Linked DNA regions of Homo sapiens. The protein of the gene in region 1 binds, or shares a complex with, the protein of each later gene. Each region holds a gene or a part of one and is shown on either strand. Other genes may lie near its edges. A codon is read from its position in the direction of its gene.

Evidence for each region.
Region 2: the proteins of RUSC2 (region 1) and RAB35 are in contact, whole or in part, in a crystal structure (PDB 6IF2), measured with the Homo sapiens proteins. Residues at the interface, in NP_001129471.2 of Homo sapiens: Val997, Lys998, Asn1001, Asp1005, Val1008, Thr1013, Arg1015, Lys1020, Glu1119, Glu1155, Leu1158, Leu1159, Gln1161, Pro1162, Leu1165, Leu1166; in NP_006852.1 of Homo sapiens: Asp4 (codon at 8,518), Tyr5 (codon at 8,515), Leu8 (codon at 8,506), Phe9 (codon at 8,503), Lys10 (codon at 8,500), Ser22, Leu26, Asp30, Ile38, Thr40, Val43, Asp44, Phe45, Lys46, Ile47, Lys58, Gln60, Trp62, Thr76, Arg79, Gly80, His82.

What each region holds. Positions count from the first base shown.
Region 1 is NC_000009.12:35,536,297-35,552,466, reverse strand, and holds part of RUSC2 (AP-4 complex accessory subunit RUSC2), read right to left. Parts: intron 14,511-16,170; exon of another isoform or gene 13,359-14,510; intron 6,038-13,358; 5' UTR 5,946-6,037; coding exon 3,932-5,945; intron 1-3,931. UniProt on the Homo sapiens protein: Associates with the adapter-like complex 4 (AP-4) and may therefore play a role in vesicular trafficking of proteins at the trans-Golgi network.
Region 2 is NC_000012.12:120,108,124-120,124,333, forward strand, and holds the start of RAB35 (ras-related protein Rab-35), read right to left. Parts: upstream 8,631-16,210; 5' UTR 8,528-8,630; coding exon 8,476-8,527; intron 345-8,475; coding exon 294-344; intron 1-293. UniProt on the Homo sapiens protein: The small GTPases Rab are key regulators of intracellular membrane trafficking, from the formation of transport vesicles to their fusion with membranes.

The DNA.
Region 1 (16,170 bases):
TTCAAGATTCAGTAAGATCCCTTTAAATCTTGATTCTGCTGCTCAGTATCTCAAAGAGCCGTCTCAGCTGCCTTTTTTATTTTTATTTTTTAATTTACTTTTTTCTGAGACAGAGTCTCACTTTGTCACCCATGCTGGAGTGCAGTGGCGTGATCTCAGCTTACTGCAACTTCCGCCTTCCAGGTTCAAGCGATTATTGTGCCTCAGCCTCCCGGGTAGATGGGACTACAGGCGTGCGCCACCATGCCTAGCTAATTTTTGTATTTTTAGTAGAGATGGGGTTTCTCCATGTTGGCCAGGCTGGTCTCGAACTCCTGGCCTCAAATGATTTCCCCACCTCAGCCTCCCAAAGTGCTGGGATTACAGGCATGAGCCACCACACCTGGCCTACTTTAATTTTTTTTAGAGACAGGATCTCACTTTTTGCCCAGGCTGGGATGCAGTGGTGCAATCATAGCTCACTGTGCCTCAAACTCCTGGGCTCAGGCGATCCTCCTGCCTCAGCCTCCCGAGTAGCTAGGACTACAGGCATGTGCCATCACTCCCAGCTGTTTTTAAATTTTTTTTTCTGTAGACACAGGGTCTCACTATATTGCCCAGGCTGGTCTCAAACCCCTGGCTTCAAGTGATCCTCCTGCCTCAGCCTCCCAAAGTGCTGGGATTATAGGTGTGAGCCACCATGCCCAGCCGACCTTCTCAGCTTCCTATACTGTCATTCCTAGATTGGATCAACCTGTCCCTTCTTTTGTCATTCAAAGCTTGATGAATTGTCATTCATTTTTGATTTAGAAAAAAGCTGTACAGAATCAAGAGAAGACTGGAGACTTATGGAACAGAGCAGCATGTTGATATGTCTTAATCTGATAGAGAAAACACATCTCTGACCAGGATATTTCTTGCCCTCAGAATGCCAGTCATAGTATCCCACGAGATGCACCCAGCAGACAGACACTGCAGTCTAAGGGAGTGGGTTCAAAGGACCCAGTCAATCCTTGCTGTTTCTGATCCTGCCCCTTCCCTAGAGATCTCCCTCCCATGCCCACCCCAAGGACAGCTCTTCAGTGTATGTTAGGAACATGAAGTCTTCTGATGGACTGTGATCTCCCTGACAGCACAGATATTATTTATGGTTTTAAAACATTTTCTTTTGTGAAGCCAACAGACCCAACCTAAGGCTACAGCACAGCTGTGAGCCTCTGCTATCCCTGCTTTACCTCCCTTTCCTTCTAAACCCTCTGAGATCTGGCTTCCACTCTCACTACTCCTGAATGTTGCCTTCAGGATTCTTCATTATCTTAGGTGATTTCTCTTTAGAACTCTTTTGGTTCAAACTTTTTTTAAACTTTCTCCTCCTTTGGTTCCTGTGACTTCACTCTCTCCTGGTTTTTCTTTTTTTTTGAGACGGACTCTCACTTTGTCACCCAGACTGGAGTGCAGTGGCATAATCTTGGCTCACTGCAACCTCTGCCTCCCAGGTTCAAGCGATTCTCCTGCCTCAGCCTCCCATGTAGCTGGAACTACAGGCACCCGCCACCACACCTAATTTTTGTATTTTTAGTAGAGATGGGGTTTCACCATGTTGGTCAGGCTGGTGAACTCCTGACCTCAGGTGACCCGCGCACCTCGGCCTCCCGAAGTGCTAGGATTACAGGCATGAGCCACCATGCCCGGCCTCTCCTGGTTTTTCTTCTATTGTCCTAATTCTTCTGTCTCTTTTGAGGGTGCTGCTCATCCCTTAAGTCACAGTATCCCCTTCTTCCCTTTATAACTCAACACATTCTCCCTGGATCCTCTCTCAGCCACACACATAGCTTCAGCTACCACTTTTGTTTTTTATTTTTGAGACAGAGTCTCACTCTGTTTCCCAAGCTGGAGTGCAGTGGCATGATCTAGGCTCACTGCAACCTCTGTCTCCTGGGTTCAAGCGATTCTCCTGCCTCGGCCTTCCATGTCGCTGGGATTACAGGCGTGCACCACCACACCCGGCTAATTTTTGTATTTTTAGTAGAGATGGGGTTTCACCATGTTGGCCAGGCTGGTCTTGAACTCCCGAACTCAGGTGATCTGCCTGCCTCAGTCTCCTAAAGTGCTGGGACTATAGGTATGAGTCACCACGCCCAGCAAGTGCCAGCTACCACTTTTATTCCAATGACTTTCCAATCTACACAGTGCTTTCTCCTGACTTCAGGAAGACACCCCTTCCAGTCCATCTTCTACCCAAACAACCAGTGATCCAATTACTTTTTTTTTTTTTTTGAGGTGGAGTTTCGCTCTTGTTGCCCAGGCTGGAGTGCAGTGGCGTGATCTCGGCTCACTGCAATCTCCATCCCAGATTCAAGTGATTCTCCTGCCTCAGCCTCCAGAGTAGCTGGGATTACAGGCATGCGCCACCATGCCTAGCTAATTTTTGTATTATTAGTAGAGATGGGGTTTTACCATGTTGGCCAGGCTGGTCTTGAAAACCTGACCTGAGGTGATCCGCCCGCCTTGGCCTCCCAAAGTGCTGGGATTACAGGTGTAAGCCACTGTGCCCAGCCCAATTACTTTTTTTTTAAACAAGGCCTGAAGGAACAACCAACCAGTGATCTTTCTAAATGCAAATCAAAACATATAATTAAGCAGACAGAAAAACCAAACCAAACAAAAACAAACAAATGCCAAAAGCCATTTCTCTAAAATTTTTCAGTGGTTCCACCTGTGTTCCACTATGGCTTCACCAAATTATATGCAGTTCCTAGAAAGGGTCAAGCTATTCTGTGCCTTTGTGGTTTTGTACAGACAATCCTGTGAGCCTAGAACATTCTTCTTACAAGTCGTCACAAAGCCCAATCCTAATCATCTTTCTAGATTGGGCTTAAATGTAACTGCATTAGCAGTTCCTCCCTGACGTTTCAGTCTGATTTACATACCCCTTTCACTGGCCAGTACGGAACACTGCCATCTCTGCATTTTAATGATCAACTACGTTTTCTGTTTCTGTCCTTAGCTGGAATCCTTGAAAACAGAGTCATCCCTCTCATCTCTCTGTCACTAGCACCACCTTAACACACTGGTATAAAATATTTATTTAAAATGTAACAAAATAAATAGGGAAAGAGCTGGCCTAGGGAGGCCACTGCACTCCAGCCTGGGCGAAAGAGCAAGACTCCGTCTCAAAAAGAAAAAAAAAAAAACTTCACTGACGCCCAGTGTGTGTGTGTTGTTGTTGTTAGACATATCCCTTGGTTGCCCCTTAGGCACTGCAAACTCCTAAAGGTCTGAACCTGAACTTTTCTTCCAGGAAATCTCCTGTGATTACAGCCCCTATCCATGGCCTCATCTTTCCCATCATCCAGGTTCAGAATCAGTCTTCTGAATCCTTCATTTCCCAATATGTCAGCCTCTAAGTCCTGCTGATTTTATCTCCTCAGTGTATTTATTTATTTTTTTTTTTTGAGACAGAATCTCACTCTGTCTGCCCAGGCTGGAGTGCAGTGGTATGATCTCAGCTCAGTGCAACCTCCACCTCCTGGGTTCAAGCAATTCTCCTGCCTCAGCCCCCTGAGTAGCTGGGATTACAGGTGGGTGCTACCACTCCTGGCTAGTTTATTTTTTATTTTAGTAGAGCTGGGGTTTCATTATGTTGGCCAGGCTGGTCTCAAACTCCTGACCTCAAGTGATTCGCCTGGCTTGGCCTCCCAAAGGGCTGGGATCACAGGTGTGAGTCACTGCACCCAGTCTGCTCAGTGTATTTTTGAGTCCTCTGTCTTTCTCCAGTGAGCCTATTCCACTGTAGCTGTGGGTCCTGCCCTGGCCTAGAAGGATAACAGATCTAGGATGTGGAACCTCTAGTGGTATGGATGGGGTGGTCTGGCAGGGACCTGTCAGGGAGGTGGCCATGCATATCCTGCTGGTGAATAGCCACATATTTGCTAACCCTTAGGCTCCTTACCGTCAGCTCTAGCTCTTGCATCCCTCTGGGTATGGCTGTTGGCTGGGCTCCCTGGGAGAGCAGGCCCTGGATCCATCAGCTGAGCCAGGGGGCCTTGCCCAGTAGCTCTGAGGCCAGCAGGAGGCATCTCACTGGAGTGGGGTCCCTGACAGACCTGGGTGGACCAGGGTGGACTTGGGTCTGGGCCAAGTAGGTCCATGCCTGGCCCCAAAGGCATGGGTGGCAGGCTATGGCTACAGCAAGTGCCCTCATCCAGTGGGGCCCCCCGATCTTGCTGGGCTTCTTGGATGGGTGAGAACTCCTGGGAGGAGTCCCCAACACTCACACGAAGTGGGGGCGAGCCAGAGCCTCCAGTTTTCTTCCGGCCCTTGGCCAGCTCGGCAAAGGAGGTGACCCTCCTGGGTGGGGAGCCAGGCCCGGCCATGGCTGCAGGGCCCTCACTCAAGCGCACTGGGCAACTCAACATACGTTCCAGCGAGCCCAGGCGGACAGGAGGGCTGCGCTGCAGGCTGCGATCATAGCTGCGGGAGCGCTGACGTCCAGTGCTGAGGTTGGGGGGTGAAGTATTCGTGTATACTTGTCCCTCAAGCACAGTGGGGCCCACAGCAGCTGCTGCTTGGGTGGAGGAACTCACTGCTTCTTGTTCCTCTGGCTGGACTTCTGGCTTCTGGAATAGGTAATACTCAGAGGGCTGGCTGGGGCCTGGGTCTGGGCCAGGGCCTGGTGGGGGACTTATCTTGGTGTGTTCCTCAGAGCAGCTAGTGATGGAAGAGCCAGCAGGGCTTGGGGATGATTGGGAAGATAGGTCACAGGTGACAAGTTTATAGTAATTTTGTGTGGCCACAACAAGACGGGCCTGGCTTTGGAAGCAGGCTGTGAGGTCAGCCACTGCTGGGCACGGCTCACAGTGTGGGCGGTAGGAGTTGCAGTTGGCATCAAGCTCAGGAGAAGAGGCATGAGGGCAACCATAGCCCCCTTCCCTTCCTCCACTTTCAGGGTGATGGGACTCATAAGACATCTTAGACTCAAATGGGGAGGGCTGCAGATCCAGATAGAAGGCGCCAGGGTCTGAGTGGCTGCAGAAGGAAGAGTCGCTGCAGGACTGTGGGGCAGAGTTGAGATTGGCACGGGGGGTGCCATGCATCTTGTTGTAGAGGGTGCTGAAGGTGACCAGCACACCATCTGAACTGTTGCAGGAGGAGTCGCTCACATAGCCCATGGACTGGTCAGCTGCCTCGGACTGACTGGATGTGCTACTGCAGCGGCAGTGCTGGTCCCCTGAGCCGGAGCATCCAGGGTTCCTTGGGGATTCATCTGAACTGAGCTTCCATTCCTGGTCAAAGGAAAAGCCAGAGGTATCGCTGGCTCCACCCCCACTGCCACTCCCACCAGGTCCCCCACACTCATCCAGCTCCATAGTCTCTGCTTCCAGCTCTGGCCGGCAGCAGTGGCTGGTGCCGCACTGCTGAGTATCCAAGGTCATCACTGGCTCCTGTTCCTGCCCTTCCACCACTCCAGCCCGACTGCGTGTTGTCCCCCATGGCCTGCCCACTCTGGGGCCAGATGGTGGCAGCTGGAAAGAGGATAGATGAAAGTTGGGCTGGCCAGTGCCATGCAGGTGGAAGGACTGCTGGGTGGCACTGTCACCAATGCTGTCATCATACAGGTCACCAAGTCCTGGCTCACCCACACCCTCCTGCAGCAAGAAGGGGTTGTGTCGTTTGGGGGCTCCAGGGCCTCTTCCATCCCGACTCCTACTCTTGGTGCTGTCTATAGACCGTGCAGTTCCTCCTGGAGTAGAGTGCAGGCTGCTGAATAGCAGGGAGTCAGCTTGTCCTAGGTCTTGATCGGGCTGGGTGATGCCCAGCTCAGGTGGGCAGAAGGGATTAGGTCTTGTGCTCCCACCACCTCCACCTGCCCCTCCACAGCACTGCCTGTCTGGGACTTGGCAGTGCACCAGGGGGATGTGATGAACGATGAGGGTCTCTCCAGTCAGCTTTGGGGGACTATCCATTCTGGAAAGTTCGAATAAGGGCTTCAACAGCACCAGACACTGTCCCTGGAGCCCAGTGGGGCAGAACACATTTCATCAGGAGAGCTTGGCACCTGGAGAGAGAGGGAAAGAAAGGGAACCTAATGTCACCTCCCTGGAAGTCAGGGGCATGCCCTTCCCTACATCATTTTCAGATGGAGAAGAGCCCAGGAAGAGAAAAGGCTTGAGTCAAGATGGAGCTTGACCACACAGCCCAATAGGCAGGTGGGGACGTAACCATGCTTTCTGCATTGCACAGGTGCAGCACCTGAGGTCCCCCTTAATTTTAAGGTCACTATGCATCAAATTATGACAAAAGGCCAAGTCCTTCTAATGCCACATATGAAGGTTTGGGCAGTACTTTCCCTTTCTCTTTCAAGGACCCTCTCCTTGGCAGTAAACAATGACCAGTCCTTAGCACAAAAAAACTATGAATAATGACACAATTAAGAAAAAACCATCTAGGATGTTTAAGGCTTAGACACAGCTATAGCACACAAGTTTACAGCCAAGAGGGAAAATCATGAATAATATGAACTCATAGCAATAAGCTATAATTTTGCAAGAAGCATTTTAAAATATACGGTATCATCTGACCAAGTGACTGTTATCTCTGATCCCCTTTCTCGTCCTACAAGCCCCAGAATATTTGTCCCTTTCTGATGACCGTGGGCTAAGTATCCTTACTATCCTCACTACTATACTAGAACTTCTTGAATGCAGACACTGAGTTGGGCATTAGGGTGACTGCAAGTATGACTGATGTCAACCTCTTCCTCCTCAATGGGGGTGGGGGGACCTAGTTTTATGTCTTTTGTATCATTCTAACACATCACACAAGATAAACGTGAAAGGCATAATACATTCTTAACATGCGTCTAGCTCAGGATACAGACATCCTGAAGTGCCCAAATGCTGCCCAGTTTTAGCTTAGAACCTTCACTACTGGGATCCACTAGAAAGTCTTCTCTTCCCAGTTTTACCTCTTATAGGCTAAAGCAAAGTTCTCTCTTGTTCAAGGTCTCCTGGTGCCAAGGACACAGAACCCATCCTGAGCTTCTCTGGTCTCTTGGCTGCACCGTGGCAGTGTGGCCTGCTCAAGTTCTAGTCTCCTGTGTTTCCACGTTCAGGTCGCAACAGTCTTCATTCCCTTCGACTCCTCACATGTAATGTTCCAAAATTCATTCATTTCCTTTCTCTTTTTATTCCTATCATTTCCTTTTCACTCACCCTGAGTCTAAATCCCTCATTGCCTTTCTCTTATTCATCATTTAACTGAATCCTTGACACAATCAATTTCTTAAAATTTAACTCATGTAGACCATAGGGTCATAGCTCGTCATGTGGAATGTGGTAAAGTCTGAGGCAAGTCACATATGCTCAAGGACATGAACAAACAATGCATAAAAAATATGGCTAATAAGTATACGTATAAGGGACAAGGTATTAAAATATAATTGTGTTAAATTTAAGCAGCAATTATTTACAATCTTGCTTCCTCCTCCCCTTTCTGAGAGGAAGGCAGGCTCCTCTGTTGAACTTCCAAGCCTTTGTGTGTTTAATGGGCTAATGGGTAGAGATGTAGAAGGGCAGATATTAAGAGAGTCTGAGCTACAAGATTAAGGGTTACAGAAGAAAACATAGGAGTAAATCTTTGTTATCTTGGATTAGGTGATGGTTTCTTAGATATGACACCAAAGGCACAAGTGACAAAAGAAAAAACATAAATTGGACTCCATAAGAACCAAAAACTTTTGTGCTTCAAAGGATACCACCAAGAAAGTGAAAAGACAATCCATAAAATGGGAGAAAATATTTGCAAATCATATACCTGATAAAAGACTTCTAATCAGAATATATAAAGAACTCTTACAACTCAACAATAAAAAGACATACGAGGCTGGGCACAGTGGCTCACGCCCGTAATCCTAACACTTTGGGAGGCCGAGGTGGGAGAATCATGAGGTCAGGAGACAGAGACCATCCTGGCCGACATGGTGAAATCCCATCTCTACTAAAAATATAAAAATTAGCTGGGCGTGGTAGTGCATGCCTGTAATCCCAGCTACTTGGGAGGCTGAGGCAGGAGAATCGCTTGAACTAGAGAGTCAGAGGTTGCAGTGAGCTGAGATCATGCCACAGCACTCCAGCCTGGTGACAGAGTGAGACTCTGTCTCAAAAAAAAAAAAAAAAAAAGACATATGATCCAGTTTAAGACAGGGCAAACAGTATGAATAGGCATTTCTCTGAAGAAGACATACAAGTGTCTAACCAGCACATGAAAAGATGTTCAACATCATTAGTCATTAGAGTAATAAAAATCACAATGAGATACTACTTCACTCCAGCTGGGAGGGATAAAATAAGAAATACAGACAATAACAACTAGCAAATGTTGATGATGATATGAAGAAACTGGAACCCTGAAACATTGCCGGGAGTATTGTAAAATGGTGCAGCTACTTTGGAAAAGTCTGACAGTTTATCAAAATGTTAAACATAGTGTCATCACATGACCCAGCAACTGCACTCCTGGGTATATACCCAAGAAAAATGAAAACATATGTTCACACTAAAGCTTGTACACAAATGTTCATAACAGCATTATTCACAGTAGCCAAAAAATTGGGCACAATCGAAGCCAGTCACAAAGGGCTTTTGTGATGTTGTATGATTCCATTTATATGAAATGTCCAGAATAGGCAAATCCATAGAAATAGAATGTCCTGAAATCAGGCCAGGCGTGGTGGCTCATGCCTGTAATCCCAGCACTTTGGGAGGCTGAGGCGGGCGGATCATTTGAGGTCAAGAGTTCAAGACCAGCCTGGCCAACATGGTGAAGCCCTGTCTCTACTAAAAATACAAAAATTAGCCAGGTGTTTGTCACCATTTTTGTAAATAAACATGTCTGTATGCATAGAAGAAAATCTGTAACATGCAACAAACTGTTACCAGTGCCTATCACTGTTGAATGATTTGGATTATTTTTAATTTTATTCTTTTTGCTTCAGCTGTATTTTCTAATTTGTATGTAATAAATACCCATTTTATGCATAATTTAAGCAATTTTTTTCTTTTTTTTGAGACAGGTTCTCACTCTATCACCGAGGCTGGAGTGCAGTGGTGCGATCATGGCTCACTGCAGCCTCAGCCTCTTGGACTCAAGTGATCCACCTCAGCCTCCTGAGTAGCTAGGACCACAGGTGTGTGCCACCACGCCTGGCTAATTTCTGTATTTTTTGTAGAGACATGGTTTCTCCATGTTGCCAAGGCTGGTCTTGAACTCTTGGGCTCAAGTTATCCACCTGCCTTGGCCTTCCAAAGTGCTAGGATTACAGATGTGAGCCACCATGCCGGGCCTAAACAATTTTTTTTCTTTGAGGGGGTTTCTCCTTTCATACATAACTACGTTTCCCCTGGAGTCCTGGCCATAATCCCGAGTCTGGACTAAAAGGAGCATAGAGAACTTTCTTACATAGATAGCAGTAATTTTAGGGGTACCTATGGGTTGCAGCCATCACTGACCTTCAATGAGTACCTTTTCTTCCTTTTTAAAGCATTTTCAAGAGGCATTCACAAGTATCACATAAAAGAATGTATGATTCTGCCACAAAACCATTACCAGGACATACATGCATTAATATGGAAAAACTGATGTACAGATACAGAATGCAGAAAGCTGACTCTCTAAATCAGAGATGAAGAACACATGAGCGTGGGAGATGACGGAGCCCTTGGCTGGAGGGCACTGACAATTGTATTGTAATGTGATGTTGACATATCTATCTCCCAGACTGGAGCACAGTTCTGAGGTTGGAGACTGCAATACAGTGAACTCTGTGCTTGGAACACAGTAGGTGCCTGGTTATTTGTTGACTACTTTTCCCATTAAAATAACCTGAGTTGTTAGTCTTTTTATGATTGAATTATAGGAGTTTTAACATTTATTCTGGATACAAGTCCTCTGTCAGATATATGCCTCATGAATATTTTCTCTCAGCCTGTGGCTTGTCCCTGTTTTCTTAACTGTGTTTTTTGATAAATAGTTTTTAATTTATTAAATTTAAATTGATCAATTGATCAACTGATCATAGAGTTTGTTTCTCTATGGTTAAATCTTTCTGTATCCTAAGAAATCTTTACCTGTCCTAAGACCATAAAGAAATGTACCTATGTTTTCTTCTAAAAGCTGTATAGTTGTAGCTTTTACATTTAGGTTGTATTGAATCCTACTTTAACTGTCAAGCTCTTTCACTGATTGATTTCATTTTATTTTATGCTTTTGTATCTCAGAGAAGATCTTATTCCTTTCTGATCTCCACACAACCAAGAGAAAGGCCGAGCAATGGCTCCTCCATAGACGATTCCAATTCAGCCATCTAAGGGGAAGTTCTCCAGGCATCTCATGAGATTTTGTACTCATGCTTTGCCCACCCCATTCACATTTACTTACAAGGCACTTTTTATGTATGCATATCTTACTGATCCTTACATCAACTTCCAAAGGAGGCAGAGCCATCTTCATTTTTAAAAATAAGGAATTATTTTTATATTTATAAAATTTTAAAAAATGTTATATGATATAAAAATAATTTAAAAAAATTTTATATATATAAAAATTTTAAAATAATTATACACCCAGAAAAATGAAATGACTTGCCCAAGACCACTCAGTGAATAAATAACAGAATTAAGATGAGACTCAGGAATCCTAACTTTTGATCTTTTTTCTTGGTCAGTTAAGAATATAATGAGAGTAGACCTAGCATGGGGGCTCACACCTGTAATCCCAGCACTTTGGGAGGCTGAGGCAGGTGGATCATGAGGTCAAGAGATTGAGAACATCCTGGCCAACATGGTGAAACCCTGTCTTTACTGAAAATACAAAAATTAGCTGGGTGTGGTGGCACGCTCCTGTAATCCCAGCTACTTGGGAGGCTGAGGCAGGAGAATTACTTGAACCCAGGAGGCGGAGGTTGCAGTGAGCCGAGATCGTGCCACTGCACTCCAGCCTGGGCGACAAAGCGAGAGTCTGTCTTAAAAAAAAAAAATGAGAGTAAACTGTACATATGACACCACAGAGAACATTTACTGAGAGCGTATCTCAGGCTCCTTTCCTGGGAGTGACTTTTTCTACATCAAGACAAGTGGCCCATCCCCTCTAATGAAGGTGAAGAGAAAACAGTGAGCTGGAAGAGCTCATTTCAGACTTTTTCTGCCCTGACTAAATGGAGAGACATGGAAGATGAGGATGGGGGAGAAACAGAGGATCCAGAATAAGAAGAAAGTAGAAGACAGCTCTTTCAGAAGATGAGCCCTCTAGCTATGCCTACCAGGTAGAGTGGAATGGTGGGCTCAGCCAGTATAAAGTTATGAGGTCATGCTCTCCAAAATCAGGAAAAGCTTTCTATGAGAGCCCTTTTCCTGGCCCTTGTCCCAAATGGGTGTCTCTTGTCCTATTATAATACTATAAGTGATCATTTATTAAACACTTATGTGCCATTAATTTATATATATCATCTCTAAATGTACTGTAACATTTTTAAGTAGGCATAATCCTTCCCATTGTAAAGATGAGAAAACCAAAGCTTAGAGTGTGTAAGTAGTTTGTCCACATTTACACATCTGAGATGGGATTCAATCCCAGGTCTGCCCAATTTGTAATTATTTCCACTACAACGGCCTTCCAAAGAAAATGATTGGGGCCACACCCTCTTCCTAAAGTCCTTGCAATTACTCTGCTCCCAGAGCATCTGCTTCCTACCTGTCCTGGGTAGACCCACATTTCAGCCTCCATTTACACAGGTTATGTCTACCGGCCTCTCTATTCTATGAACCTACAGTCCCTTTCATACTGTCCCCAGGCTATGATAACACTTGCCAATCCCACCTCCTGCCCCAGTTCCCAGCCCTCATCTCCCTGCCCCATTCATGGTCTCAAGGCTCATTATTCCCTGCTCTTGTGGTTCACATTCCTAGACACTTCCTGGGAACAAATACACTCCCATAACTATCCAGCATATTCCTTAACCATATAGTTGCACAACATGGCACTACTGTCTCCTATTATCCTATGTTTTTGAACCCTCTACCAAGGTGGTTATTAGAAATGGGAATTTTTTTACAATTATTTTTTACAGACAGAGTCTAGCTTTGTTGCTTAGGCTACAGTGCAGTGATGCGATCATAGCTCACTGCACCTTGAACTCCTGGGCTCAAGTGATCCTCCCACCCAGCCTCCTTAGTAGCTGGGACTACAGGTGCACACCACAATGCCTGGCTAATTTTTAAATTTTTTGTAGAGACAGGGTTTCACCATGTTGCCCAGGCTGGTCTCAACTCCTAGGCTCAAGTGATCCTCCCATCCCAGCCTCTCAAAGTGCTGGGATTACAGGTGTGGAAATGGGAATTTAGGGAACTCTTTCTACCTGCTCAGCAATGGAGCAACTCTGGGCGGGAAAACCCCAGAAAGAAGGTTTCCTCTAGCTTTGGTCATCAGTGTCTTTCTGCCAGTCATAGAACCCCTTCCCTCTTTTTTGGCCTTCTGAATAAAGATGGGGAACACAATGGTCTTCAATTGCTCTTCTCTAGCAATCTGACCTTGACTTGAGATCCTGATAAGGTGCCTCTGTAGGACTGATAACGCTTTTCCTGACTGGTCCTCTCCTGGGTAGGATCAAAGGGAGGAGGGCAGGAGGGTAGATTTGGGAGTGTTAGCTTATGCTTAGGTCTCTTCTTGAAGGCTTACTGTAACAGATCAGGTGCCCTAGGCATTACAATGACTGTCCCTGCCCCTGCCAGACACTGTGGGGCACCCTGGTCAATGTTTTCTTACTCCACCCTTACCTGGAGCCTGGTGGCTCCCATAGCACCAGAAGATATGGTATGTGTGTCTATGTGCATGTATAGCTATGTGCATGCATGCATGCATGTATGTATGTATGTGTGTGTGTGGAGAGAAAGGTTTCCCAGCCCTCCTCTTGAAAGCTGCGAGGATCCTTGCATGTTCTCCATCATAAACTTACAGTAGCTGTAGGGGTGTCTCCTCCTATTAAGCCTTTGTTTCTAGATCTGACTCCCCCATCCCTGACCCATACTAGAAGCTTCATTAGAAATGCCCAAAAAGGAAGGATGAGATCTGCTTCTTGACAAAATAGCATAAATGGCATTAGCCCAAGCCTTGGCTTTTCCCCATCTCTGCACCATAGCCCAAATGTATGCAATGAGCTTGTCTAATGCTTGTGCTTCCGCATGTTCCCCCCTTTATCCCCCCCCGCACCGCCCCCCTCTCCCTTTTGGAAAGACAAAGCCAACCCTCAGAAGCCAGGGCCCAAATGTGCTGATCGGTATCCTAGCATCTCTGCCCTGCCCCTCCCCCAGCTCCCTGAGCCATACCTCTGTCAGGAGCCTTGAGCTGGACCCCTGATGCGTCTGTCCCTTTTGCACTCCGACCAAGCTCTACCGCGACAGTTCCAGCTGAGACACTGTTCCACGGGATCACACAGGGGAACTGGGCCGATTTCCTAAGATCTGATTTCTGCTAATACAATGGCATCGTTGCTAATGCAGGGAGGCTGCGCAATCCCAGCCCCAGTCTCCGTGCTGCTGCCGCGGCTGCTGGTGCTGCGGTGACGTTGCTGCTAAGGGAAGGGGGAAGGGAAAGGAGCAGGCAGGCCCACAGCACAGCCACTCAGCCTCCCTCCCTTCCAGCCCCTGTGGGCCCTTTAGCCTAGGGAAGGGGGAGGGTAGAGAAAGGAGCCAGCCACAGAGGGCAGTCAGTGCTGGAAGATGGAGCACTCTTAAGACAGCAAAGGAAAAATGGGGAGAGTTGTGTCTAGCTCCTCTTTTGTCCTTAGGCATCTCAGGGAAGATGTCTGGGCAGAGCCTTGGAGCTTCCTTCCTTCCTTCCTTCTTTAGGCTCCTCCTTTCATATCTTAACCAGAAACCTCTCCCTCCTCTTTTTGCCCATTGTGAATGACTCTGTTTTCCAGCTTTTTCCTCTAACCAGGATTCCAGACTAGCCTCAGGGTGGGGCAGTCAGCCTGGGAGGGGATTCCTGAAGCCCAGAAGGGAGGCTGCAGGGACCAGTCACCATTCTGCCAGCAGTAACTCGAACTCAGTCCTGGTGGATGGCCCACGAGTCTTAGCACTGGCCTTCCTAGAGAGACGGGGCGGTAGACAGGCTTCTGTACACTGGGTGGTGGTAAGTCTTAAGGACCATGGAGGCTGCAGGCCCTCTTCCTAACACGGTATTCAATTCAGTTCCCTGGGTCTTCAGAGGTCTACTCGCTGTGGCTGAAGTAGAACTGGCCCCTCTCACATACATCAGTTCTCGGTCAGTGCTCAGCTGGGTCCAGCTGGGTTTGTGTGAAGGCAGAATCCCTCTAGCCAGGCTGAGAGGCCAGGAAGCTTATCTCCCCAGGGAAAGGAAGGCAGGGAACAGGGAGTGGTCTCTCCTAGGCCACAGAAAAATCTCAGTTCTGCCTGGAGACCTACAGAGTCCTCTGCTCCTTCCCTGCTCCAGCCTCCTCAGGTTCTGGGCCAATTCTGTGGGAATAAGGAAAAAAGGGAGAAACTGCAGCTAGAGCCAGTTGTACAGGAAGTAGCGGTGAGGTCTCCGTCCACTTTGTGCCACTGCTCCCTGCTGCTACGCTTGAACACAGAGATAGTCTTAAGCAGGGCTTGGTCCCCAAACACTAGCCCTGCCTAGGGTTCCTCCCAAGGTGACTACTATCTGGACTCCACAGCCTGCCCTTGGATTTCAGGTCCTTAGAAAGAAGCCTTTGGAGAAACCACTGGCCAAGACCATAACAGCTATCCCTCAGGATCCAGAAGAGATGTAACTTTTCTTTTCCTTTCTTGTTTCTCCTATTCCCTGTGACACCCATGTGTCCACTGACACCATGCTGAGCTGAGTCAATTGTAGAGAGAAGAACAAAAACACACAAAGACACAAAGACCCATCTCCAGCCTTGACTTGTTTGAGCAGCCATGGCCCCTTGATCCTATAAAGCAAGAAACAGTGAGGAAAGGAAGGAAGGAGGGAGGCTGCTGTTCATAGCCAACCATTAGCGGTCATCTCAAGGAGGCTGAAAGGTGAGGAAATGGTGTCACTATGCTTTCCTCTCGCCTAGCTGATACCACAAAGCGGGGTTGGATAAGCATCTGTAGGTTAGGGCAGAGTGAATCTTCATGACCAAGCGTTTGGAGTTCGAGCCTCTTACCATGAGAGCTCTGGGCCCAGGGTCTTTGACTCTGAAATTTCTGCGAGGCTAAGTCATGCATTGTGCTGGACAGCCAGTGCTTCCAGTTGCCTATGGAAGGTGGCAGCTCTCAGACCTCTAGTGCTTGGCTTAATTCACTACATCACAGACAACCTTGCCACTTACTTCCTAACCACTACTGCCAAAGATCTAGGGTTTTGAGGAAAGATCAAATTATTTTCCAGCCAGAAACAAAACACAAATACTGTTACATTATAAACCTCGGCCACCTAACTAGTCTCCCCACTTGCAATTTACTTTTTAGTACTACCAGATTCATCTCCCTAAAGCACCACCTTTCTTCAACATGCCACTCCTCCTGCCCCTTTTAATGGTTTCTCATTACCCAGAGAATCAAGTTGAGCCTCCTCATTTTGGCTTTAGAGGTCATCCATCTCGGCTGTCTATTCTTTTTTTTTTTTTTTTTTTTTTGAGTTTCACTCTTGTCATCCAGGCTGGAGTGCAGTGGCGCGATCTTGGCTCACTGCAACCTCTGTCTCCCAGGATCAAGTGATTCTCCTGTCTCAGCCTCCCGAGTAGCTGGGATTACAGGCACCTGCCACCATGCCCCGGCTAAGTTTTTTACTTTTAGAAGAGACGGGGTTTTGCCATGTTGGCCAGGCTTGTTTTGAACTCCTGACCTCAGGTGATCCACCCGCCTCAGCCTCCCAAAGTGCTGGGATTACAGGTGTGAGCCACCGTGCCCAGCCTTGGCTGTCTACTCTACTCCACTCAACCTTGCCTTCCCATCATGCAGTCCTTGAAACATGTTTCAGAAACTCATTTCCACTCTGTTGTATTTGTTCATTCAGACTCTCCTTCCTGTTACACTTGGCCCTGTTCAAAATTATCCAAACCTACCAGACCCAGAGCAACTCCTCCATCAAGTCTTCTCTGATTACCCCAGAGCCAGAAATAATCTGTTCTCCGAACCAGTGGTTGCA
Region 2 (16,210 bases), on another chromosome or scaffold:
TCCCGGGTGGCACCATAGACGCTGTTATGGGAACCTTCCTGTTTGGACCATGGGTGGGAAAATGATGGGCCAGCCAAAGGGTTTTCGTGAGCAGGTGCATTAGACAGACCACAGAGGCTTCTGACAGAAGCGCCACAAGGTCCTAAGCCCCACTCCATCTTCTTCCCTCCTCTGGCAACCAGAATGAGACAGTTCCCAACATCAGGCAGAGGCAACTCTGTTTGGTGCCAGGGAGGGGATGTCAACAAACAAACAAAAACGACACCCCAGCAGCACTGCAGGGGAGGACTCACCTGAGAAAGTGTTGTCTGCAAAACGCAACAGTAAACTGCTCTTGCCCACACCTGCAAGAGAGAAAGCACTGCGATGAGGGGGGCAGGTGGGTCCCCTCCCCGCAGCCCCAGCCCTTCTTCCGGGAGAGGATGCCTCAGTCCCAACTCTTAAGAAGCTCGGTGGGACCCAGCTCACTTCTCAATGCTCTTTCCACCTCCCTGAGCGGCCACACACCAAGAACATCTCTTCCACTCGATCCCTGACCTTTTCCTTCGTCCTTGTGTAAGACAAGCTGCTCCCAAATCCCCTGGGGGAGAGATGAGAAAGGGACTGGTGCCCAGGCCCTAGGCTGAGGGCTGGCCCAAAGGGAGATGCCAGACGACAAAGCAGAATGAAGGTCAACCACACGAAACGGCCCCCAAGTGCGTCTACAACATGGTCCCTAGAAAAGTGCACAGCACGTTGTAGCACATCAGTTAGGGAGCCGCCCAAAATGAAGAGCTGTAGAGCGGGAAAGGACCCTTGAGATCATCAGGGCTATTTTGCAGGTGAGGAAACCAAGGCCCACATAGCTAGAACTCAATGGCTACCATCTTTCTGGCTGATGTCCCCGCCGGGTGGGCTGGTGGAGTGGAGGGTCTGCCTTATACCCATCAGGGCAGCAGCCCACATGTGCTCAGACCATGCACCAGCCACAGCAGCTCCTGGCTGCTTAGAGCACAAACATGTACACATCTGGCCTCCCCCACTTTTTTTGTAAAGAAATGGGGTTTCAGGCCAGGCGCGGTGGCTCATGCCTGTAATCCCAGCACTTTGGGAGGCCGAGGCAGGCGGATCACCTGAGGTCGGGAGTTCAAGACCAGCCTGACCAATATGGAGAAACCCCGTCTCTACTAAAAATACAAAATTAGCTGGGCGTGGTGGCACATGCCTGTAATCCCAGCTACTCGGGAGACTGAGGCAGGAGAAGCACTTGAACCCGGGAGGCGGAGGTTGCAGTGAGCTGAGATCATGCCACTGCACTCCAGCCTGGGCAACAAGAGCGAAACTCTGTCTCAAAAAAAAAAAAATGGGGTTTCATTCAGTCACTCAGGCTGGAGTACAATGGTGCAATCATGTCTCACCACAGCCTCCAACTCCTAGGCTCAAGTGATCCTCTGACCTCAGCCTCCCGAGTAGCTGGGACCACATGTGCATACCATCATGCCCAGCTAATTTTTTTATTTTTAGTAGGGACAGAGTCTGGCTACGTTGCCCAGGCTTTTTTTTTTTTTTTTTTTAATCTTTTGTAGAGACGAGGTCTTGCTATGTTGCCCAAGTTGGTCTCAAACTTCTGGCCTCAAGCAACCCTCCCGCCTGGGCCTCCCAAAGCGCTGGGATTACAGGCATGAGCCACTGCGCCTGGACCTCTCCCCTTGACTTCAACTCACAGTGCTTTCAGCCTGCCAAGTACACCTGTTCCATGTCCTCCTATCCTGTCCCCAATCTCCAACACCCCTGAGGCCAGCCAAGTTAATTGACCACAAAGAATTCACATGCATCGGGCTGTGTGTGTGGTGAGCCCTTGGATGCCTCTTTGATTATAATTCTGGCCACATCTCTTGAGATGAGGAACCTCAGGCCCAGAGTGGCCGGCCTAAGTGCCTCTGTGAGCAGCAGTAAAGCTGAGATCTGCATCCAGGCCGGACTCCTCCAGAGTGCTAACACTCCTCCCAATACACATTGCTGGGAGTCTTGCGTCTGGTTCAGGAAGTTTGGAAAAAATGACCTGTGGGGGCTCCAACATCTCACTCCTGTTAGATTTTTAATGAAAATGCCACGAAAGCTATGAAACCCCCTGAAACAAAGTGCAGATTTGAGCCTAGGTGTCTGTTCATGGGAGAAGCCCACAGCATTTTTTTTTTTTTTGGAGAGATAGGGCCTTACTCTGTCTCTCAGGCTGGAGGGCAGTGGTGCGATCATAACTCACTCTAACCTTGAAATCCCCAAGTACTACAGGTGTTCGCCACCACACCCAGCAAACTCTTTAAAAATTTTTTGTAGAGATGGCCTCTCACTATATTGCCCAGGCTGGTCTCAAACTCCTGGCCTCAAGCAATCTGCCCGCTTCTGCCTCCCAAGGTGCTGGGCTAACAGGCCTGAGCCACTGCATTTGGCTCCACAATTTTAATAGATTCTCAAGAAGGGCACTGCCTCCACCTGCACTCTACCAAGTAACCAAAGCGGAAAACCACTGTCGCAGTTGTATTTCCCTAAGCCTAACCCCAGCATCCTCTCTGGGCAATCCTCTAAAGATCTCTTCTGGGAGCTTCTCCTGGTGAGTGAGCTGCCCCACGATGCCCAGAAGAACTTGTTTCACTGAGTAAGCCTGGGTCCTACTTTCCTAAAGACAGGCCAGGGTGAGGCTCTCCTGGGCAGGCAGACGCTGCTCAGCCTGGGCCTGCAGGGCTCATGCTCAGGGCCACTTCCTCCTTGCTCCGCCGTGAGGCTTCCTGCTGAGCTCAAGGAGAGCCCGAGTCCCGGGTTGGGTCCTTCACGGCGCTGTGCCCAACACCAGCACCCCACTGGCCTCGCCGCCTCCTCTGCTTCCTCCTGGAGCCTTCTGGGTCCAGCTTACTCAGCTAAAAGCTTGAGTCTGGGAGTTCCTCTAGGACAGAGCCCTCGCCTCACCCGCCCTGTGCATTCACAGTGCTGTAAGCCAGGCCCAGCACTTAGTAGGTGCCAACCAAACACTGCTTAATGAATTTCTGCCTAAACGAACGCCCGCCACACTGACAGCTCTGCTATCCAGCGCTCCCACTGCAGCACAGCAGGCGCCTAAGCAGGGGTTTCCAAACTTCTGCAGGGCAGCAGAATCCTTTTCTTCATCCAAGCTTTACCCAAATCCCATGTGTAAAACAGCTCTCTCTGCAATGACACAGCAGTATCCCCTCCAGCTTGGCCTCTCCAGGTCCCCATACTGTCCCCAGGCGTCTCGGCAGAGCAGTTAAAAGCCACTAGGCTGGCCAGGCGCAGTGGCTCACACCCGTAATCCCAGCACTTTGGGAGGCCGAGGTGGGCAGATCACGAGGTCAAGAGATCGAGACCATCCTGGCCAACATGATGAACACCCCACCTCTAGTAAAAATACAAAAATTAGCCGGGCGTGGTGGTGCGTGCCTGTAATCCCAGCTACTCGGGAGGCTGAGGCAGGAGAATCGCCTGAACCCAGGAGGCGGAGGTTGCAGCGAACTGAGATCGTGTCACTGCACTCCAGCCTGGGCGACAGAGCGAGACTCCATCTCAAAAAAAAAAAGCCACTAGGCTGCAGAAAGACCACAACCATCACCACATTATCTGCTGCTTTGGACCTGACACCAACCTCTGACACTGCTCTCCCTTTGAGAGGAACAGAAACCCACCCCAAGAAACACTACCTCCTAAATATCCCTGGAAGAGGCTTCCTCGGAAACACAAGCTGCAGCCATTACCCCACACCATCAGTGTCAGGGCAGGAGCAGAGGGCACCCACCAACCTTCACCACAGCCACCCCCGAGGCTGCCCAAGGGCACATCAGCATGACCCCAACCAGTCCAGCCTGTCATTCTTTTTTTTTTTTTTTTAAATGGAGTCTCACTCTGTCGCCCAGGCTGGAGTACGGTGGCGCGATCTTGGCTGCAACCTCCACCTCCCAGATTCAAGCGATTCTCTTGCCTCAGCCTCCGGAGTAGCTGGGATTACAGGCGCCCGCCATCACGCCCAGCTAATTTTTTGTATTGTTTGTAGGGACAGGGTTTCACCACATTGGCCAAGCTGGTCTCGAGCTCCTGACCTCAAGTGATCCGCCTGCCTCGGCCTCCCAAAGTGCTGGGATTATAGGAGTGAGCTACTGCTCCCGGCCTTTTACCCCTGGCTGCTGTATCTGGTCCTCACCACGCAAGCCACACACATGTCTTCCCTTCCTCCTGCTCCTGCCTGGGCTATGGCCCCCTCACTCCTCTCTGCTTCAGTTCAACCTCTTGAAGAGCCCTGACCTTTCAGTGAACTGTTCTCGATATTTTTTTTTTTTTTTGAAACAGGATCTTGCTCTGTTGCTCAGGCTAAAGTGCAGCAGCGTGATCATAGCTCATTGCAGTCTCAACCTCCCAGACTCAAGAGATCCTCCCACCTCAGCCTCCCAAGTAGCTGAGACCACAGGCGTGCACCACCATGCCCTGCTAATTTTCTTCTTTTTGTTGAGACAGGGCCTCCCTATGTTGCCCAGGCTGGTCTCAAACTCTTGGGCTCAAGTGATCCTCCACCTCGGCCTCCCAAAGTGCTGGGATTACAGGTGTGAGCTACCGTGCCTGGACCTTTTTTTTTTTTTGAGACAGTGTCTCATTCTGTCACCCAGGCTGGAGTGCAGTTGTGTGATCCTAACTCCCTGTAACTTTGAACTCCTGGGTTAAAACAATCTTCCTGTCTCAGCCTCCCACATAGCTGGGACTATAGATGTGCACCACCACGCCCAACTGATTTTTTTTTTTTTTTTGAGATGAAGTCTCGCTCTTGTCCCCCAGGCTGGAGTACAGTGGCACGATCTCGGCTCACTGCAACATCCGCCTCCTGGGTTCAAATGATTCTCCTGCCTCAGCCTCCCGAGTAGCTGGGATTACAGGTGCGTACCACCACACCCAACTAATTTTTTGTGTTTTAAGTAGGGACAGGGTTTCACCATGTTGGCCAGGCTGGTCTCGAATTCCTGACCTCAGGTGATCTGCCCACCTCGGCCTCCCAAAGTGCTGGGATTACAGGTGTGAGCCACTGTGCCCGGCCTTTTTTTTTTTTTTTTTTTAAGAGATGGGGTCTCGCTATCACTATGTTGCTCTCACTATGGTCTCGAGTTCAAGTGTTCCTCCCGCCTCATCCTCCCAAAGCACTAGGACAAACTACTGCCCCCAGCCATGTTCTCAATTTTAAACCTGCCTCAGCCACCACCTCACTGTATAACCTCACACAAGTCACGCCCCCTCTCTGAGCCTCAATTTACTCATCTGTCAAGTGAAGGGCTAACTCCATCTCCAAATGAGGATGGCTGGCCTGAGGGATGCAGACGACATGCTGTTACAAATCAAAGCCAGTGTCAGAGAGTATAAGGGAAAGTATAGAAAATACAGAACTGGCCGGGCGCGGTGGCTCACGCCTGTAATCCCAGCACTTTGGGAGGCCGAGGCGGGCGGATCACGAGGTCAGGAGATAGAGACCATACTGGCTAAAATGGTGAAACCCTGTCTCTACTAAAAATACAAAAGATTAGCCGGGCATGGTGGTGGGCACCTGTAGTCCCACCTACTCGGGAGGCTGAGGCAGGAGAATGGCGTGAACCGGGGAGGTGGAGCCGGCAGTGAGCCGAGATCGCGCCACTGCACTCCAGCCTGGGCGACAGAGCGAGACTCCGTCTCAAAAAAAAAAAAAAGGAAAAAAAGAAAATATAGAACCTCCGGCATAACGAAGGGATGCAGAGATTGAGGGAATCCATTGCAGAAGCATCCACAATGTGCAGAGTGGGCAGAACTCTAGATTTATGAAGAAAGAAACCAGCATTCATGGAGGGCCTATTGTTTGCCAGCCCTGACATGAGCTGCTCGCACACGTATTAGCACTGAGATGCAGTGGCTCCCGGCTTTGCCCCTGCTGAGCTATGTGATTTGGGGCAAGTAAGTCACCTCCTCTGAGCCTCAGTTTCCTTTTTTTTAAGACGGAGTTTCATTCTTGTCGCCCAGGCTGGAGTGCAATAGTGCGATCTTGGTTCACTGCAACTTCCGCCTACCAGGTTCAAGCGATTCTCCTGCCTCAGTCTCCCAAGTAGCTGGGATTACAGGCACATTCCACCATGCCCGGCTACTTTTGTATTTTTAGTAGAGACGAGGTTTCATCATGTTGCCCAAGTTGGTCTCAAACTCCTGTCTTCAGGTGATCTGCCCGCCTTGGCCTCCCAAAGTGATGGGATTACAGGCGTGAGCCACCGCGCCCGGCCTTAAGCCTTAGTTTCCTTATTTGACAAATCACACAGGGGGCGGGTGAGAATAAGCGTCTGTGAAATCGTTCAACATATCTTAAGGAGGCATTCACACAAGGAGCCCAGTTCAGGGGAGTGTGTAATGTCAGTCTCTGGGCTCAGCTGCCAAAGCTTAGTCTGGACTTCCATGGCTACCATCTCCCAGCTTTGAGGATCTCAATGTCGGGAGAAATCAAAGAGCACAGCATCCATCTCCTCTGCACAACCTACGCCTACATGGCTGACCTAGGAGCTAGACCACATAAATCTCGACCCAATGAGTCTTCTCCCACACCTGACTTCGGAGAGAAAAATCAATTCATCACACAAAATGTACTGTGAGAAAGCGGGCCAAACCCATCCCCTGGGCTTTACAGAGGAGAAGAGCCAACAAGCTGCATCTTCCTGCTGAGTTTAGGCTTTTCACTGTTGGATATCAACGCAGAGGTCCAGATGTCTTGCAGAGGGATAAAGGCTCCTGACCACGGCGGGCTGTCACTCCAAAAAGAGAGAAATGGCCCCAGTGCCAGTCCCTCAGAACCCAGGCCAGGGCTGCAAGGAAATCATGTAAAGGAAGAAGCCTCAAGACCCTGAAGAATACCAAAGGCCATCTCCAAGAGAACACTCCAGAGCTTGCCTGGTTTCCCTTCATTCAAACCATAACCAGTCAGTACTCCACCTTTCTACCTCCTTCCCCAACCTCAGTTACTCTTCCATCTCCCTGGTTAGCCCCCAGCTTTCCCCCTTACCTCTCCCCTCCTCCAGCAACCACGGAAACCTCAGCCATCCTTCACCTGATCCAAACCACCAACCACATCTCCATCCAGCTTTAAAAGGGAGGCCAAAACCACCCACTTCCCTGACCTAGCTCTGACATCGCTACCCAACACTCCTACATCCCAAGTCATACCGCTCACTTGATTTGATCCCCTTTCCTTAACAGTCCATGGGCTCTACCACCAGCCTGGCCTCTGCCTCCAATCATAAGACATCCCTCCCCACACTCAGCTCAGGTCTGGTCTACAAACTGAGCATGCTCCCAAGACTCTTTCATGAACATCATATAACCCCAGCACCTCAGTTTCGCTCCCATAAACCTTCTGGGGCCTGCCTTCCTGACCTCTTGGTCACTCCATAAACCTGCTCACCTGCCACACTCCAAACAGCTCTAAAACCCTCCACCTTTTCCCAGAAACCAGTCTACCTTTTCGAAGGACACTTAATATTCATTAATTCCTTCTGCAAATATGTCTTAAGCATGTACTGGGTGCCAGGCACTGTTCTAGGCACTGGAGCTAGAGCAGTGATCAGAGCTAGGAGCCCTCAAGCAGTGTGTGTGTGTGGCCAAAGCACTTTTATAATTTTGGCTGTCCCATCCCCAGGACCCCTCTGTATATAGTAGTGTAACAGCAAACAGTGACAACTCACTATGTGCCAGGAGCTGTGAGCAACACTGCAGAATCTCACTTAATACTCACATCAACCCCATAAGGCAGATCCAACTATCATTCCATCTTACAGATGAGGAAACTGAACCACGCAGGGATATAATAATTCAGCAGGAATATGCCAGACCCTGTGCAAAGCCCTTTATCCGACTTACCTCATTTAAACCTCACGGCAATCCCATGAGGCAGGTTCTGAGAACGTCCTCATTTTAGATGGGAAGAAACTGACGCTTATAAAGGATACTGATGATAATGACAATAGTGAACATTTACTTCGAGCTTACTTTACCGGGTAGGGCGCTACGCACTTTTCCTACTTTATCCCATCGAATCCTCACACCACCCAGCAAGGCACATCCCCACTTCTCAGATGAGGGAACTGAGGCTCAGGACGGCGAAGCAACTTGCCCAAGGTCAGCGCGAGGCAGGTGGTAGTCCTGAGACTCGAACCCACGTCTCTCCAACTCCAGAGATCGCGCGACTTGACCAAGGTCACACGTGAGGCAGGAACAGGCGCGATGACTGGACCCGGCGCGCTTGGCCCCTCCGCCCCGCGCCCCAACCTCCCCTCGGCGCGGTCCGGAGCCCCTCGGCGCACCCCTGGGGCCCAGACCGCCGGGCTGCCCCGCCCGCCCGCCCCGCACGGGCCGGCACCTCCCCGCCCGCCTGCCGCCCCGAGGCCCCCGCGGGCCGCGCCCGGCAGGGCCCGCGCCGCCTCCGGCCGCTGCGGCCCTCACCGCTGTCGCCGATGATGAGCAGCTTGAAGAGGTGGTCGTAGTCCCGGGCCATGGCGGGCGGGGGCGGTGCGCGCGGGCGGGCGGGGTCGGTACTGGCCTCGCGATCCGCAGCTCCCTTCGGGCTGCTCCGGCAGCGGCGGATCCACTTCCCGAACAAACAGCCGGAACTGACAGAAACACCTCCCTCCGCTCCCCCTCCTCCTCCTCAGCAGCCGCCGCCGCTACCACCGCCTCCCTCCTTCCCGCCCCGCCCCACCACTGCGCAGGCGCAGCGTCTGGCACCGCCTTGCGCAGCCGCAGCCTGAGCCGGCCGCGCCCGGGTCGCGCACGCGCCCTGACGGAGTCCCAGCAAGCGCGGGCCCGTCTTCCTCGCGTCTCCTCGGGGAGCGTCGTCGCCGCCACCCTGGGCGCTGAGAGCTTGCGGAGCCGAGCCGCTGTCGAGTCCCAGCGGAAAGAAGCCCAAGGTGCCGGAGAAGCCCGGTCGTGGACGTTGTTGCTCCCTCATCTTCGAGACCCGCACGCCCTGCGGAGAGGAAATGACAGGCACGCCGCGACCGTGGGGCGGGGCTCGCACGAGCTCCGGGTTTCCAGAGGCAGGGGCCGGGGCCGTAGAAGGCAGAGTCGCGCGGGGAAGGCCCGGTACCCCGCCCCTTCCGCACCGACCCCTCCCCCGCGGAGCTGGCCCCGGCCCCGGGCCTGTGGAGTGGACGCCGAGGGCGGCGGGCGGCTTCCGAGTTGGACAGAACGGGAGCTGCCGGCGGGAGCAGAGCTGCGAGGAGGTGGCCTTTGAGGGCAGCGCGGGGTCGAAATCCCATCCCAGCGCTGTGACCTCTTGGAGCCCACATTGCCTCTTTGGTGGAGGGGAGGGAGTGGTCCAGCTCCGAGCCGAGCCTGGGAGCTGAATGACCCAGTGTGCAAGGCGCACCTCGGAGACCGAAAGCAACCGCTCCCCCGGCTTCAATTTCACACCACCTGCAGATACACGTCTCAGAATCTGCGGCTAGGAAGACCTGGGCCGCCAGAAGCTAAACGTGTGCATTTTGTCATCAGCCCCGGTTTCTCGTTTTAGAGTGAGTTCCCACCTGCCCTACCTAAACTGACCTGAAACGGAAAGTTGTATGCCCCCACGACCATCCTCACTGCAGAACTGCAGAGGGTTTTAAGCTCCTTATTACCTGTTTCTTATAATCCTGTCCCTTTCCAGGCGAGTATTTATCGGATAGTTCTACTTGTTTTATCAAACTTCCTTTTCTTTTGACTTTATAAAAAGCAATGCCGGGAGGCTGAGGCGGGAGAATCGCTTGAACCCGGGAGGCGGAGGTTGCAGTGAGCTGAGATCTCGCCATTGCACTCCATTCTGGGCAACAAGAGCGAAACTCCGTCTCAAAAAAAAAAAACAATGTTCGTCCTTAAAATTATGTGCAGAAGTTTACTGAAAAGTACAAGTTACTATTTTTCCTTCTGAAGCACTCCTCACAGGTAACCCCTGTTAGTTTCACAGGTAACCTTAAAATGCTTAACACATATTTGTTGAATGAATAAGTGCCCCCCAGTGAATTTCCTTTGCCTGTACAAACATATATGTACATACCTTGCTTTTTCTATTTAACAGTACACTTTTATCATTTAACATCTGCGTGGTATGGTACTCCATCCGATAACCATCGGATGTACTATTATTTAACCACTCCGCTATTAATAGACATTCATGCTGTTTATATTTTTTGGTTATAATAAACATTGTTGCAGGCGGGATCATTGAACAACACATGGAGTGTCTGACTCAAGCCTTGAGTTGTTTTTCCGGGAGCTGAGAATCAGTGTGGTGATATCGAAATAACATGAGCTTGGAATCTGAAGGTACTGGCTAGGGAGAAGAGCTGCTCATGTGCTCCCGATAGAAAGTCCCCCTTGGTCGGGAAGGTTAGGGCCATCCTCTGACTCAGCAGTTTTAGGAAATAGAGGGGGAGAAGGAAGGTATGTACCTTCCTTCCACCAGGGAGGCACGCCCAGCCCTAACCAGCCAGCGAGGCAGTAGGTCCTCCTAGCTCATCTTCACAACCTGGGCTGGTGTCGGGAAGACTTTCGTTCCAATGCTAGCTTTGGAATCCTGGCCTCCATCCCTTAAAAGCTTTGTGATCTTAGGTAAGTCACATCACACTATCTCAAAGCCCCCGTTTCCTCACAGAATGGTTGTTTTAGAGTTATGTTTGTAAATTACCTGGCACATGTAGGCATGTGACAGACTGTAACCAATGTTACTCAAGGTCATTTTGCACTGATTCATACTTTGAGCCATTTCCTACTGTAGACTCTAGCACACATTTTCAAGGCAGCTTCCTGATAATAAGGCTGTAGGATATTTTTGGGAAATAAATCCAAATTGGCCATTAAAACCAGATTCCTGACTTTGCCTGCATGTGTCATCTGGAAAGCAATCGGCATAAATTCCTTCATTTCTTTGGTAACTATTTAATGAGTGTTTATGTGCCACGGATTGCAGAGGTTATAAGAAGAGAGCCTTAGGCCGGGCGCTGTGGCTCACACCCATAATCCCAGCACTTTGGGAGGCTGAGGCGGGAGGATCACGAGGTCAGGAGTTCAAGACCAGCCTGGCCAAGATGGTGAAACCCCATCTCTACTAAAAATAAAAAAAATTAGCCGGGCACGATGGCAGGCGCCGGTAATCCCAGCTACTCGGGAGGCTAAGGCAGGAGAATCGCTTGAACCCGGGTGGCAGAGGTTGCCGAGATTGCACCACTGCACTCCAGCCTAGGCGACAGAGCAAGACTCCGTCTTAAAAAAAAAAAAAAAAAAAAAGGAACAGAGCCTTTTCTCACCAGTTCACAGCCTCATCAAGAGTTAAGACATACTCATGAGGAAATTGAAAGTATAAGACAATACAGTAGATAGAAAAGCTGTCAGATATGCAGTCTAGACTTCAGAGGAGGAAAGCTATAGCTTTTAGTTAGAATGATGGGGAGAAGATTTTATCATAAAGATGTCATGATGGCACTGGAATAGGAGAGCTTTGAGTGTCTATTTAGACAGTCCCTGTCACAGTCTATGAGAATCATCATTTGGCTTGGAGGGGAATTCCCTGCAGGCCAGGGTATGTGCCTGGCATCTCAAAATGAATCAGCACATTTTCTTCTGGAAACATTGTTAGACATTTATTTAAACTACAGTTCAGTGATGAGTTATGTTAAGCTTTCTTTCTCCTTCTCACTGTATACATATGTAAACTTGTGTGACCTAAAGGATCAGTGTGTCCAGTAATGGGAAACTTTGTTCCACTGCTCTGAACAGCTAACTTACAGATGAACTTTTGCAACACCACCTGTTTGCACATTAGAAACTATTAATACGATGAGGAGGCATTGAAAGTTTTTGAGCAAAGAGGCAATCTCAAAATATTTTAGTGAAGTAATCTGGCAGGGTGCAGGATGGATTTCAGCTGCAGAGCTTTAAAGGTTATTGCTGAAGCCTGGGTGTAAGGTAACAGCAGGGACAGATGCAAAAGACAATAAGCAAACTTATAAACTAGACAAAGCAGCTTCCAAAAAAAAAAATCACGTAATTTACCTGGTAACTGGATTCATCCTTAATTCAGTAAATATTAAGTGGCCGGGTGCAGTGGCTCACGCCTGTAATCCCAGCACTTTGGGAGGCCGAGGCGGGTGGATCATGAGGTCAGAAGATCAAGACCATCCTGGCTAACATGGTGAAACCCCATCTCTACTAAAAATACAAAAGAATTAGCTGGGTGTGGTGGCACACGCCCGTAGTCCCAGCTACTCGGGAGGCTGAGGCAGGAGAATCACTTGAACCTGGGAGGTGGAGGTTGCAGTGAGCCAAGATCGCATCATTGCACTCCAGCCTGGGTGACAGAGCGAGACTCCATCTCAAAAAAAAAAAAAAAAAAAAATTTGCACAGTTACTAGGTGTTAGGCACTGTAGTGGGCACAGAGGCTAGAACATGAACAAAACAAAGCTCCTGTCCTCACGGAGTTTACAGTTTAGTGGGGAACAAGTCATTCACTCATTCAACAAATACTTGAGGGCCTACTATGCCAGACATTGATCTACGAGCTGAGGATTCAGCAGTAAGTAAAATTTTAAAATCCCAGCTTTCATAGAGCTTATATTCTGATAGAGAATACAGGCACCAAGTATGTCCAAGGAGAAAAGTAAAGCAGGGAGCACGCTGAGGTTTGCAGAAGCAGGCAGTGGAGCCACAGAGGTGGCAGGAAGTTTGGCAGTGGATGACAAGAGAAACAATGCTTGGTGGTGAGAGCAGTGGGGCTCATGAAGTATTTTTCAGGATAGTGGAAGCAGAGGATTAGCAGCCAGGAAATAATAAGGAGTGAATATTTGGAGGGAAGATGAGCTAAGGGCGCTTCAAAGAGCTTTGGGAAGTAAAGTGTCACCAACCAGAAGGCTAAGTGGGTAAAGGAGAGGGGGACCTCAGGCCCTCAAGGGTAGCAGTGTCAGGGATGAAGATCAGTGCAGTGGAGGTTGGAGGGACCTGTGAAATCCATTATTTCAGACAGCAACATGGACTTCAAAGCTGCTGAGTGCTAGGTAGCAAGGGAGGGAACGTGTGCTGTGATCATCCAGGAAGGAAGCAGTGGGTGGTGAATCAGAACTCAGAGAAGGCAGGTAAACTGACCGACAGGGACTTTAAATTAGGAGCAAGATGGGGACCACTCAGCATACTGGTCCAAGAGGGAAGGAAGAGAGGATATGATATGATGCCTGGTGTCTCCCTCTGATGGAAGTGGAAACGGGCCCTTTCTCCCACACCTGCAAGCCTGATGCCACACCAAGAGACTTGGCAGTGGGCCTTGCCCTGCCCTGATGTAGCCCCCAGAAATCAAGTGAATGTAAGTTCCATGATTCCAGGGACCATCTCTTTATCTGTATCCTCTGGAGACCCAGTGCCTGGTAGGTGCTTGATACCTGTTGAATTAAAGTGAAGCCACACACACAGTGTGAGAGTTGGACAGAATGTCAGATACAATTAGTTGAACCCTCTCTTGAGTTCACTTTTTGGGGTGTGGGCCAAACTTGGGGTCTAACTCAGGGTCAGCTTCTTCCCCTGACTCCAAACCGTTTAGCAGGAATTTTCTCACTCAACCTTTATATTATTAAATCAGTGGTTTTGCAAGTGTAGTCTGAGGACCCGCAGGGCTCCCTAAGACCTTTTCAAAGGATCTTCAGAGTCAAAACATGTTCACAATACTAAGATGTGATTTGCCTTTTTCACTTTCATTTGCTTATGACTGTACAGTGTTTGCCAGAGCCTACATGACATGTGATACAACAGACCAAATGCAGAGCTGACATGCGAATCCAGACATTAGAAACCTAAAAAAATGTGGAACAATGCCACTTGAACAGTTTTGCTTTGTTGTTGTTGTTTGTTTTTGAGACTGAGTCTCTCTCTTGCCCAAGCTGGGAGTGCAGTGGTACGATCATGGCTCACTGCAGCCTTGACCTCCTGGACTGAAGTGAACCTCCCACCTCAGCTTCCTGAGTAGCTGGGACTGCAGGTGTACACACCACCACACCACTATGCCTGGCTTTTTTTTTTTCTTTTGAGACAGAGTCTTGCTCTGTCACTCAGGTGGGAGCTGGAGTGCTGTGGCATGATCTCGGCTCACTGCATCCTCCACCTCCTGGGTTCAAGTAATTCTCCTGCCTCAGCCTCCCGAGTAGCTGGGATTACAGGTATATGCCACCATGCCCAGCTAATATTTATGTTGTTTAAGTAGAGACGGGGTTTTGCCATGTTGGTCAGGCTGGTCTCAAACTCCTGACCTCAGGTGATCTACCCACCTCAGCCTCTGAAAGTGCTGGGATTACAGGTGTGAGCCACTGCGTCTGGCTGCTATTTTTTTTTTTTTTAATTTTTAAATTTTTTGTAGAGACAACAGTCTCACTATGTTGCCCAAGCTGGTCTTGAACTCCTGGCCTCAAGCCATCCTCCCACCTCAGCCTCCCAAAGTGTTGGGATTACAGGCATGAGCCACTGTGCCTAGCCTGGTTTTGACTCCTAAGATGCTAAATATCAATAGGTAAGATAGGTATACACAAGAGCTCTTTGGTGTCCTCAAAAAAATTTCAAAATATAAAAGGATCCCGGCTGGGCACAGTGACAAACACCTGTAATCCCAGCACTTCGGAAGGCTGAGGAGGGAGGATGGCTCAAGGCCAGGAGTTCAAGACCAGCCTGGGCAACATAGTGAAACCCTCATCTCTACAAAAAAAATTTAAAAAATTAGCCAGGCTGGGCACGATGGCTCACACGTGTAATCCCAGCACTTTGGGAGGCCAAGGTAGGTGGATTACCTGAGGTCAGGGGTTCAAGACCAGCCTGACCGATATGGTGAAACCCCATCTCTACTAAAAATACAAAAAAAAAAAAAAATTAGCTGGGCATGGTGGCGGGCACCTGTAATCTCAGCTACTCTGGAGGCTGAGGCACAAGAATCACCTGAACCTGGGAGGCAGAGGCTGCGGTGAGCCAAGATCACGCCACTGCACTCCAGCCTGGGCGACAGAGTGAGATTCCATCTCAAAAACAAACAAAATTAGGCAGGTGTGGTGGTGTGTGGCTGTAGTCCTAGCTGCTCAGGAGGCTGAGGCAGGAGGATCACTTGAGCTCAAGAGTTCAAGGCTGCAGTGAGCCATGAGCACACCATTGCACTCCAGCCTGGGCGGCAGAGCAGTACCCTGCATGTAAATAAATAAGGAGTCTTGAGGGCAAAATATTTGCGAAATGCTAGATTGAATCCTGCACCCCAGCTTCCTAGCTCCCTTTTTTGTGGGAACCCAAGTGGTAAGAAAGATCTAATGTAAATACATTCAAAACCCACAGCTTTCTCTTGTGGGACTGCGGGGCACAGCCCTGAGGAATTATCATGCACTAATTGTCCCTGTGACCAGGCCGCCATCTCACTAGAGAAATAGCTCACAGGAGGGAACCTGACAGGGACTGGGGTATCCATTCAGGCACAATCAGGAAGGTCTCACCTAGAAATCCCTCTGAGGCAATCATCCCTCAGACCAGTTTTTCCAGTGTCTTGAGCTGTGTTGACATCAACACTCCCCTTCCCCTGGGGCAGGCAGCAGGGACCCTTCCTAACAGAACCTAGGGGCAACTCAGAGCCACCCTGTGAAATAACTGGGCTCCATCTCTTAAAAAGTGAAACCCAGTCACAGGCCAAGAACGTGGGTTTCACTTTTGTTACATTCACCTTCCAAATTATTTTTGTAGAATGCCCCTGGGGCTTGGTGAGCGGAGAATCAAGAAATATGGGTTTTTTCCCAGTTCTGCCAATGTGACCTCAGAGATGCTCCTTGCCACCTGTACCTCAACTTTACTCTTCATAAAATAAAGACCACGTCCTGCCGGCCTCTCTCTCTCACGACGGTGGGAAGCACCGATCTAAGTGGTGGTAATGTGCCTTCCTGCCCATGCACAGTGGAGACCATCTGTGTGCTGATGTATGTACACTCAGCATTTTGGAGAATCAAACATAGTCATCATCATCATTTCTCAAAATCAATCTCATTCCCCATCATCCTTGTTTCACTGTCACCATCCATGTATCCAGAACCTCCTATGTGTGCCTGGCTCTGTGCAAAGTGCATTATGTCATTCAACACAGATGACAACACGGTGAGACTGCGCTGTCAAGGTGAGGGGATGCACTCAGAGAGGTTAAGG